3 separate regions of the Homo sapiens genome follow, and all the other regions are linked to region 1. The links come from fine-mapping of genetic effects on gene expression. A gene starts in region 1. Each other region holds a variant in brackets. All regions are shown on one strand. Distances are from middle to middle. Region 1 holds the start of PSMG4 (proteasome assembly chaperone 4). Region 2 overlaps SLC22A23 (solute carrier family 22 member 23). Region 3 overlaps SLC22A23 (solute carrier family 22 member 23).

Evidence for each region.
Region 2: its variant is fine-mapped to the expression of PSMG4 in tibial artery (GTEx, PIP above 0.99).
Region 3: its variant is fine-mapped to the expression of PSMG4 in whole blood (INTERVAL, PIP above 0.99).

The regions. Positions count from the first base shown.
Region 1 is chr6:3,257,392-3,260,147 of GRCh38, reverse strand. PSMG4 (proteasome assembly chaperone 4) reads right to left here and starts at 1,201. Exons shown (of 3, transcript NM_001128591.2): 1 at 952-1,201. The coding sequence starts at 1,125. RefSeq lists an enhancer at 492-621 and silencers at 742-841, 892-1,011, 1,132-1,381.
Region 2 is chr6:3,284,495-3,287,250 of GRCh38, reverse strand. SLC22A23 (solute carrier family 22 member 23) reads left to right here. Exons shown (of 10, transcript NM_015482.2): 7 at 160-392; 8 at 2,140-2,172. Among named protein-coding and RNA genes, the nearest start is that of PSMG4, 27 kb to the right of the region's middle. RefSeq lists an enhancer at 1-324. The variant C/T (reference allele first, on the strand shown) is at 1,514.
Region 3 is chr6:3,294,973-3,297,728 of GRCh38, reverse strand. All of the region lies in intron 5 of SLC22A23 (solute carrier family 22 member 23), which reads left to right. Among named protein-coding and RNA genes, the nearest start is that of PSMG4, 37 kb to the right of the region's middle. RefSeq lists an enhancer at 524-1,024. The variant T/G (reference allele first, on the strand shown) is at 1,429.

The DNA.
Region 1 (2,756 bases):
GGGCAAAATAGTGAGACCCCCATCTCTACAAAAAAACACAATTAGCCAGGTATGGTGGCACATGTCTGTAGTCCTAGCTACTCGGGAGGCTGAGGAAGGAGGATCACTTAAGCCCAGGAGTTTGAGGTGACAGTGAGCTATAATAATGACACTGTACCCCAGCCTGGGTGACAGTGAGAGACCTTGTCTACAGATCTTTGAGAATAAACCTCTGTTGTTTTAAGCCACGCGGTCTGTGGCACTTTCTTACAGCTGCCTCAGGAAACCAGGAGAAACCAGGCGGCGACACGCAAAGCCGGAAAGGCGGGAGAGGAGGGGAAATGATAATGTCCCAGGCTTGGCCCAGCGCGGCAGGGTGAAGGTGAGGGCGGCTTGGGTTTTGTCTGCTTTGACTGGCGGCAGTGCCTAGGGACTCAGCACGTGGAGTGTGAAGAAAGAGGAATCAAAGACAACTGCGAGGCTCTGAACGCACAGCCAGGAAGATGGAGCTGCCATCACAGCGCCAGTCAGGCGGAGGAGGGAGCAGGTTTGGAGAAGAGAGCCTGATGTGTGCCTAGTGCGAAATGCCTGAGACATCCAGTGGAGACGCAAGAGTCCCCAAAAAATTATCAGTGTGCTCAAAATCCAGATGGCAGGAGAGCTACGAGGCAGACGCGTCCCCCAGCGAGCGTGTGGCGAGGACAGACCCAAGACATTCTGACCTACAGAGACCAGTGCGGGACGCAGCTGCGGGGCGGCGGGACAAGGAGAGGGGCCCGGGGCCCGCGCGCAGCTCCCGAGGTGGTGCAGGCCCTGGCGCCCGCGGGCTTCCTAAGACATCCCACGGGTGGGCTTCGGGGGAGTAGGGCGCCCTGTGGACCCAAGAGAAGCCTGGGGGGCTGCAGCTCGCGCAGGCCCGGCGCCCCCGCGCCCCCGCCCCGCCGCCCGCACCCTCGGCCGCCAGGCACTCACGTAGCGGCTGCACATGGCCACGGCGAGGTTGCGCAGGTGCGGCGTGGCCCCCACCCACAGGAACAGCGAGTCCGTCAGCCGCATGACGTGGAAGTGGACCAGCTGCTCCCACAGCCTCGCGCTGAAGTTGTGCAGGGAGACGTCCCCGCCGGCGGCGACAACCAGCCCCTCCATGCCGCCCCACGGCTCCCGGCCCACAGCGCCAGACCCGGGTCCTCGCCGCTGCCAGCCCCGCCAGACCCGATGGAGCGAGCACCGAGAGACCGAGCGCGCTTTCGCTTTCGGCCCCGGAAGGGCGGGGGTGAGGGGCGTGGTCGGGGAGGGGCGATCCCGGGCTTGGGTTGGGGGCGTGGTCGAGGCGGGGCGGCTGCCGGCCCTGGGCGGAGTAGCTGTCCCTGGTTGTCTTGCTGGCCTCTCCCGCACACCAGTACCTCTCTGGACGGGCTGGGGAAACCCACTTGAGTAGCAGAGTGCGACAGTGACCTCTAGGAGTCCACGGGCGCCCAGCAGAACTCACCCTCGCTTTGTTTCCCCCCACCCCCTAATTATTACTGACGCGGGGCATTCAAGGGCTGAAGCCAGCCGCACCGTCCTCCCAGGCCGTGACACTTCGCCCTACAGACATTAATTTAATTAAAAATTTAAAAAGACTGATTTTTAATTAGTTCTTCAAGCACTCTGAGAACGGCCACCTCCCGTCCCACCTCCTCCTCCTAGCAGCCCTTTAACTCCAAGGAGGCTTCGACGGCACCCAGCCCTAATTAAGAATGGCAACGGTATTGGGAGAAAGCCTTTAGAAAGGAAAATTGTGTCAACTAAGTTGGCAGGAGGATGGGCAGGCACCCTTTTGGACGCCGAGTCCCAAGCTGCAGTCATGTACATGGCCTCGGGCTACCCCCTTAACCTCTCTGAGACTCAGTTTCCTCATCTGCAAAATGCAAATAAGAACAGGTGCCTTTCGGAGACGTGGAAAGGATCTCAAGAGAGATTAATGGGAAGCACCAACAATCATCCAATCATCCCATTGTCATACCTATGGGGAGACCCCTTGAACACTTCAGGACATTACAGAGTTGAGAAAAGGAAGCCTTGATGGGTTAAGAGAGAAGGTGGTAAAAGAAAACAGCCCATTTTGTCAGATTCTGTTACAACTGACTTTAGAGATTTAACTTGGAACTATAAAAGGTCTGCTTTAAAAATCTCTAATAGATCTAAGTTGACTAAATTGAAATTTAAGAGGGCATTTTCCATAGTTCTATTTGCTAATTATCGATGATTCAATAATACAGTTAATTTTCAGGTCAATATTTTAACAGCTTTATTAAAATGTGATTAACATACAATAACTGCACATATATAGTGTACAAATTGAAGTCTTGACACGTTATAGCCAGTGAAATCATCATCACAATCCACAAAGTGAACGCGTCCAGTACTCCCTCCTGCCCTCAGTAATGACTCCTGCCCCCAACCACTGATCTGCTTCCTGCCACACAGATTAGTCTGCATTTTCCAGAGTTTTGTATCAGTGGAATCACACAGTATGTACTGTTTTTTGTCCAGCTTCTTTCCTTCATCATAATTATCTTGGGTTCATCTGCTTGTGTGTCAATGGCTTGTGTCTTTGTATTACTAAGCAGTGTTCCATTGTATGGCTACACCATAATTGTTTTATCCCTTTACTTTGTGATTTGAGGCCCTTCAATCAGCTAGGAGGACCCAAAGATTAAGGAAACAAAGTTACCGACCGGTGGAGAGTTCAAGGCCTGGCTGGCATGGCAAATTTCTCAATCTGGATTGTAATG
Region 2 (2,756 bases), 27 kb before region 1:
CTCTGTAATCTGCTCGTGGTTCGGTCATGATGGGCTTTTCTATGACACATTGAGTTGCTTCTTCATCTCCTGGTCACCTGACAGCACGAACTCCCAGGAGGCAGCGCAGCCCCTGGCATGGGGGCAGCCCACCCACTGCCGCTCGGTATGTCTCCACAGGCTGACGGGGTACGGGATCCACCACTGCTTTGCCAGGAGCATGATGGGCCACGAGGTGAAGGTGCCGCTCCTGGAGAACTTCTATGCTGACTACTATACCACGGCCAGCATCGCGCTGGTGTCCTGCCTGGCCATGTGCGTGGTGGTCCGATTCCTCGGGCGCAGGGGAGGGCTGCTGCTCTTCATGATCCTCACCGCCCTGGCCTCACTCCTGCAGCTCGGCCTCCTCAACCGTGAGTGGGTCGGGGAGGTGGGCTGGGTGCAGGGAGGGAAGCTGGCAGATCCCCAAGGGCATTTGAAAGGGCTGCATAAGACTCCGCTGGCCACTCTAAAATCTACTGCTGGAAGGAGCTGCTTTGGGGAGAACAGAGCTTCAGTTGAGAGCATCTGTGGAGCCCGCCTTAGAGGGCACTGGGCCTTCCCGCCTCCCCCTGCCCCTGCCCCGGCCCGGGCTGCACCATGATTCCTTCCGAGTCCTGGTGGCCCAGTCTTTGCTAATAGGTAGACTGCTTCTGTGTGATTCATCACATGACCAAGAAGAACAAAGGATTGTCTCTTTCGAGTGACATTAAGGGGGAAATAAATCTGTTTTGTCACCCTTGCATTAGGGCCCTGCTTTTCAGCAGATGTTCCCGAGTTCATCAGCTTCTCTTTGGACCAAAGAATTTCTCAGTAAAGGTTAAAAATAATCTGGCCGGGTGCGGTGGCTCACGCCTGTAATCCCAGCACTTTGGGAGGCTGAGGCGGTCGGATCATGAGGTCAGGAGTTCAAACCAGCCTGACCAATGTAGTGAAACCCCATCTCTACTAAATATACAAAAAATAATTAGCTGGGCTTGGTGGTACACGCCTGTAGTCCCAGCTACTCAGGAGGCTGAGGCAGAAGAATCACTTGAACTTGGGAGGCAGAGGTTGCAGTAAGCTGAGATCGCAGCACTGCACTCCAGCCTGGGTGACAGAGCAAGACTCCATCTCAAAAAAAAAAAAAAAATCTAAGGCAAAGCTAGAGAGTCCATCTGGCCCTTCCAGCAAGCTCTGTATAGCTCCTCACCAACAAATACCCATTCCCGTGTATGGACAAACCACCACAGCATCTCCGTGGCCAGCCCAGGGCGCGACGTGAACAGGCAGGACCGATGAGCCTCTTCTCCCACCCTGGCACGGTCCTCCTGGGACAGGCTCAGGACACTGCGGGAACATCGACCCCACAGAGCTCCCCTGCCTTTACAAGGAAAATGAACCCGGGCTCTCAGAACTAGACGCCAGGGCTGTCCACCGCACCCAGATCAGAGCGGCCTTGTCGTGCAGCCTAGATTAGAGATGGCTCACTTCAAACTCAGGAGCAGCTTTCTAA[C/T]TTGGACAGTTCTTATGCAATCTATACCTTGCTGGGAGACTGCTGTTAGGCTTAGCTAATGGATTGCACACGTGGCGCCTGTCTCCCTCCATCCCCGTTCCCCAGCTGCCCTTCCAGGGAGTCTCCTGCTCACACAGTTGGGACGGAAGTGGCAGGGTGCCTCAGCCCCCGGGTGTTGTGGTGCCCCTTTGGCCCTGAGCAGGAATGCACAGGAGCCCCAGGCGAACACCAAGCAGCCGTGAGGAGCAGAGCTGGGGCTGGCAGGGGCACCCCACAGCACTTGACGCAGCTTGAATGCAGGCGGCAGTGACCTGTGGGTGACTTTACATGCAAGGAAGCTCACCCTTTGCACCTGCTGGGGTCTCACTGTGAAGGTTCCATTTTCTCCTCAGGCTCTGAGGCCAGCAGGGTCTCACTCCTGTCTTCCTAACAAAAAGATCTTTGTTTAGCGCAGTATGAATTCCACTGCCCCGGCGGCCAGCGCCATCCCAGACACGGAAGGGAGTTTGCTTGAACCAAGTCGCATGGGAACACGCTAGGCTAACTCCACACCTAATGTGCTCTCTTCTCTCTTCTCGCTTGCTTGGCCCTTGTCCGTGTGGGTGCGATCATGTCTGCGGGTCCAGTGATTGGAAAGTACAGCCAGCACCCAGACTCAGGTGAGTCCCAAGCGCGTGGGCTGTGCTTCCTCGTCTCATATTACATCTAAATGGGTGTTTTCTCGAAGACTCACGGACCTGTGGTTTCCATTTTCTCTTTCTCCCCGTTGCCCTCCAAGAACTGCAGCTGAAGTTGGCCGTAGGTTGGACACTATACGGATACATTTGTATTCTCCCTCTTGCCTCTAGAAAGAGCGACTGGTGCTTCCCTGTTTGTGTGCTGCTTGGCACGCATGCCCCCGCCCCTTCCCCTGGCACCAGGCTCAGCACAGGCCCTGGCCCGGCGCCAACATGCTTTGTCTTAGGGACAGTTGTCTGGGTGGGGGGAGAAAGCCTGGGAGTGCTGGGGCCCGGCTGTCTGTGCTGCCAGGGGAAGCCGCTGTCCCCCTTTGACTCATGTAAGCTTGCTGCCCTGCAGCCCATGGGGACAGCACAGTGCCGCCCTGCACCTCGAAGCTGCTGCTGCACCCGCCTGGCCTGCCCCAGCCCTCGCCCGTGTCCCTGGAGAGTGCTTGCCCTCTATGCAGCCTTGGGGAAGCTGAGCTGAGCCCCAGCTGTATGGTCCTGACAGCATGCCCGTGCAC
Region 3 (2,756 bases), 38 kb before region 1:
GACCTCAGCTTTCCTGAGCATGACCTTCAGAGAGCCACCATTGTCTTTACCTGGCCATGACCTATTTGTTGGGCAGCTGAAGACAGGAAAGGTGAAGTGTTTTTGGATAGTCGTTCAGATCCATAGAATTCCTGCGTGTCAGGAGCGTTACCACAGCTAGGTGGGGGTTCTCAACCTGGGGATCCACGTATCACCAGGAGGTTGTTAAAATCCAGATTCCTGGGCCTCTCCCTGGCACCTGGAGATCCTGACCTGTTAGATTTGGGATAAGCCCTGAGAACTTGCATTTCTAATAAGCACTAGAAGAGATTCTGATGCAAGTGGTATACAGATTTCCGTTTGAAGATCACTGGTGGTCTCGGCCCAAGCTCTGACTCACTGCCCTCACTGAAGACCTGGGATAAATTGTTGCTATAAAATTCCCTGGGAAAATAACCTCCAGGCCATCGTCCAAGAGAGAATATGCTCATTTTCCCCCCTGACCAGAAATGCTTGTGATCATGATTCATTCAGTAAACCAACACGTGTTTACTAGATGCCTGCTGTGTTTCAGGCGCTATTCTAGAGCAGAGAAGACACAGGCAAAGCCTTGCTCTCACGTAACTTGCAGGCAGGTGGGGCACACAGACAGGGAAGTTACACGTGCATACGTCAGGAGGGATGAAACAGCAGGGCTGTGGGATAGAGGGTGGCAGGGAGGGACTACAGTCAGAGTGGCTGCGGAAGCTTTGCTCCAGGGGCACAGGTGCAGGGGCCTGAGTGAGGTGGGAGAATGTGCCCTGCAGGTATCCATTTACGATGGGAAGGGATGCACGGGAACCCCAAATCAGAGAAGCCCTTGGTACCTGGACAGGCCTCTCGTTAGACTCCCAGTTCAGAAGATCGGGGACACTAGGTCACTAGAAGCTCCTTGGTGCTGCCGTAGCTCAGCCAGGATGTCACCCTCTGCCTCAACTTGTGCAGGGCCGTGAGAGTCAGGTCACCCAGGCTGGACCACGTGCTGGGTGGGGTGGGGCCTACCCAGGGACGCCTGAAGCTTTTGCTTCGCTGGACAGAAGAAGGACATGAGCCAGGTCTGGTTGACATGAAGGGTGCTGAGTGCTGGTGCATCTGTGGTCCCTTTTTATCCAGGGACAGTGACGAGAAACACGATGACACTCACATGGCACTCACATTTCAGCTCCTTTTCTAAGTGATTTGCAAATATTAATTCATATTTAATATTTAGCCCCCAAGTGCTTCACGTGTATTATTTCTCCATGACAGCCTATGAGAGAGGCACTATAATTAGCCCCGTTTGCCGATGAGGAAACGGGAGCACAGAGAGGCTAAGCAGCTTCCAGAGGTCACACAGCTGCTAAGAAGTTGAGCGAGGACTTGTCCAGCAGGGGTGCAAAGTCCAGCAGGGGTGGCTTTGCCACGCTGCTC[T/G]AACATGAGGGAGAGCTCTGGATAGATACAAACTTCCCTGCGCTGAGTAGTGAGTACTCAATCCAGGTTTCTCCAGCGGGGCCATGCTTGCTCGTTTTGGACGGTCCAGATGGCTTTCCCAGATTTCCCCAGACCTCACTCGTTAGCAGGTTAATGCTCTTAGGCTTACAGTACAATTTGTTTGTGGCATTTCCCTAATTAAGTCATCACACTCTGCTTCTTTCACGTTAAAATATTGTCTGGGAATAGCTTGTTTTCTCAAATCCTAATTACACTGATTCATTTCCCTCCTATATTTGGAAAGTGGTATTAGATCCTTTTTAAAAATTTATTTCTTTGCTTATGAGTTTTGCTGGTGCTTATTTCCTTTCCAGAGTCCCAGGCAGGAGGCTGGGTGAGAGGCAGTTGGTGACATGTGACTTAACAAAGAGGATAGAGGCTTCACCTCCTTGGGGAGCGGTCCTCAGGTGGTGGCTCTGCCCCGCAGCCCTTCACAGTGGACTCTGCTCTCTTCCACCCCCAGCTGTCAGATGTGTTGATGGCAGCACGATTGGCAGGGCTGCTGAGTGTGGGGGAAGGCAGCGTGTCTTTCAGTTGCTACATCTCCCACTTCCAGCTTCCTCTGCCCAGGCTCAGTTTTCTGCATGGAATCTTCCTCCCATCACCCCATCTAATCCCACAGCCAACACCTGCTCCGAGCCTCGTGTCTGTCACCCTCTCGCGCCCTGGCCGGCTGGCTGGGCTCCCAGCTTTGTTCCATCCTCCCTGCCACCAGGTCACACATGATCTGATCACATCACCACCGGCTTCAAGCCTCTCCAGTGCCTCCCAGTGCCTTTCGGGTAGACCCCAGGTCCTCCAGGCCACTGCAGAGGCTCTGATCTCTGCCTCCCACCACCTCACACCCTGGCCTTCGTTTGGCTCCCAGGACACACCACCGTCTCCCTCTCCACAGGTCCCTCCCGGTGCACACTCCCTGTCCTCTCAGCTCCCCACTCTTGCCTTGCCCAGCTCCTCAGAGACCAAGTCAGCCCCCAGTTATTCACTGTTACAACTTCAGCACTTCTCCCCGCTTCCCCTCATCCCAGCTACGACGAGTAATTGCAGGGTTCCTTATTACTGCCTGTCACCCCTGCAGAGCGGCAAGGCCAGGCAAGGCAGGGCCCGTCTGTAGAGCCAGACACTTCTGTGCCCCCAGCAGCAGCCCAGCCGAAGGCCTGACGCGACGCGTAGCAGGTGTGCCATGAATATTTATGGGCTAAACGAACCCAGGACTCCTATAGGAAGGAAGGGTTAGGATTGCGGTTGCATTGCCACTGGGTAAGTAA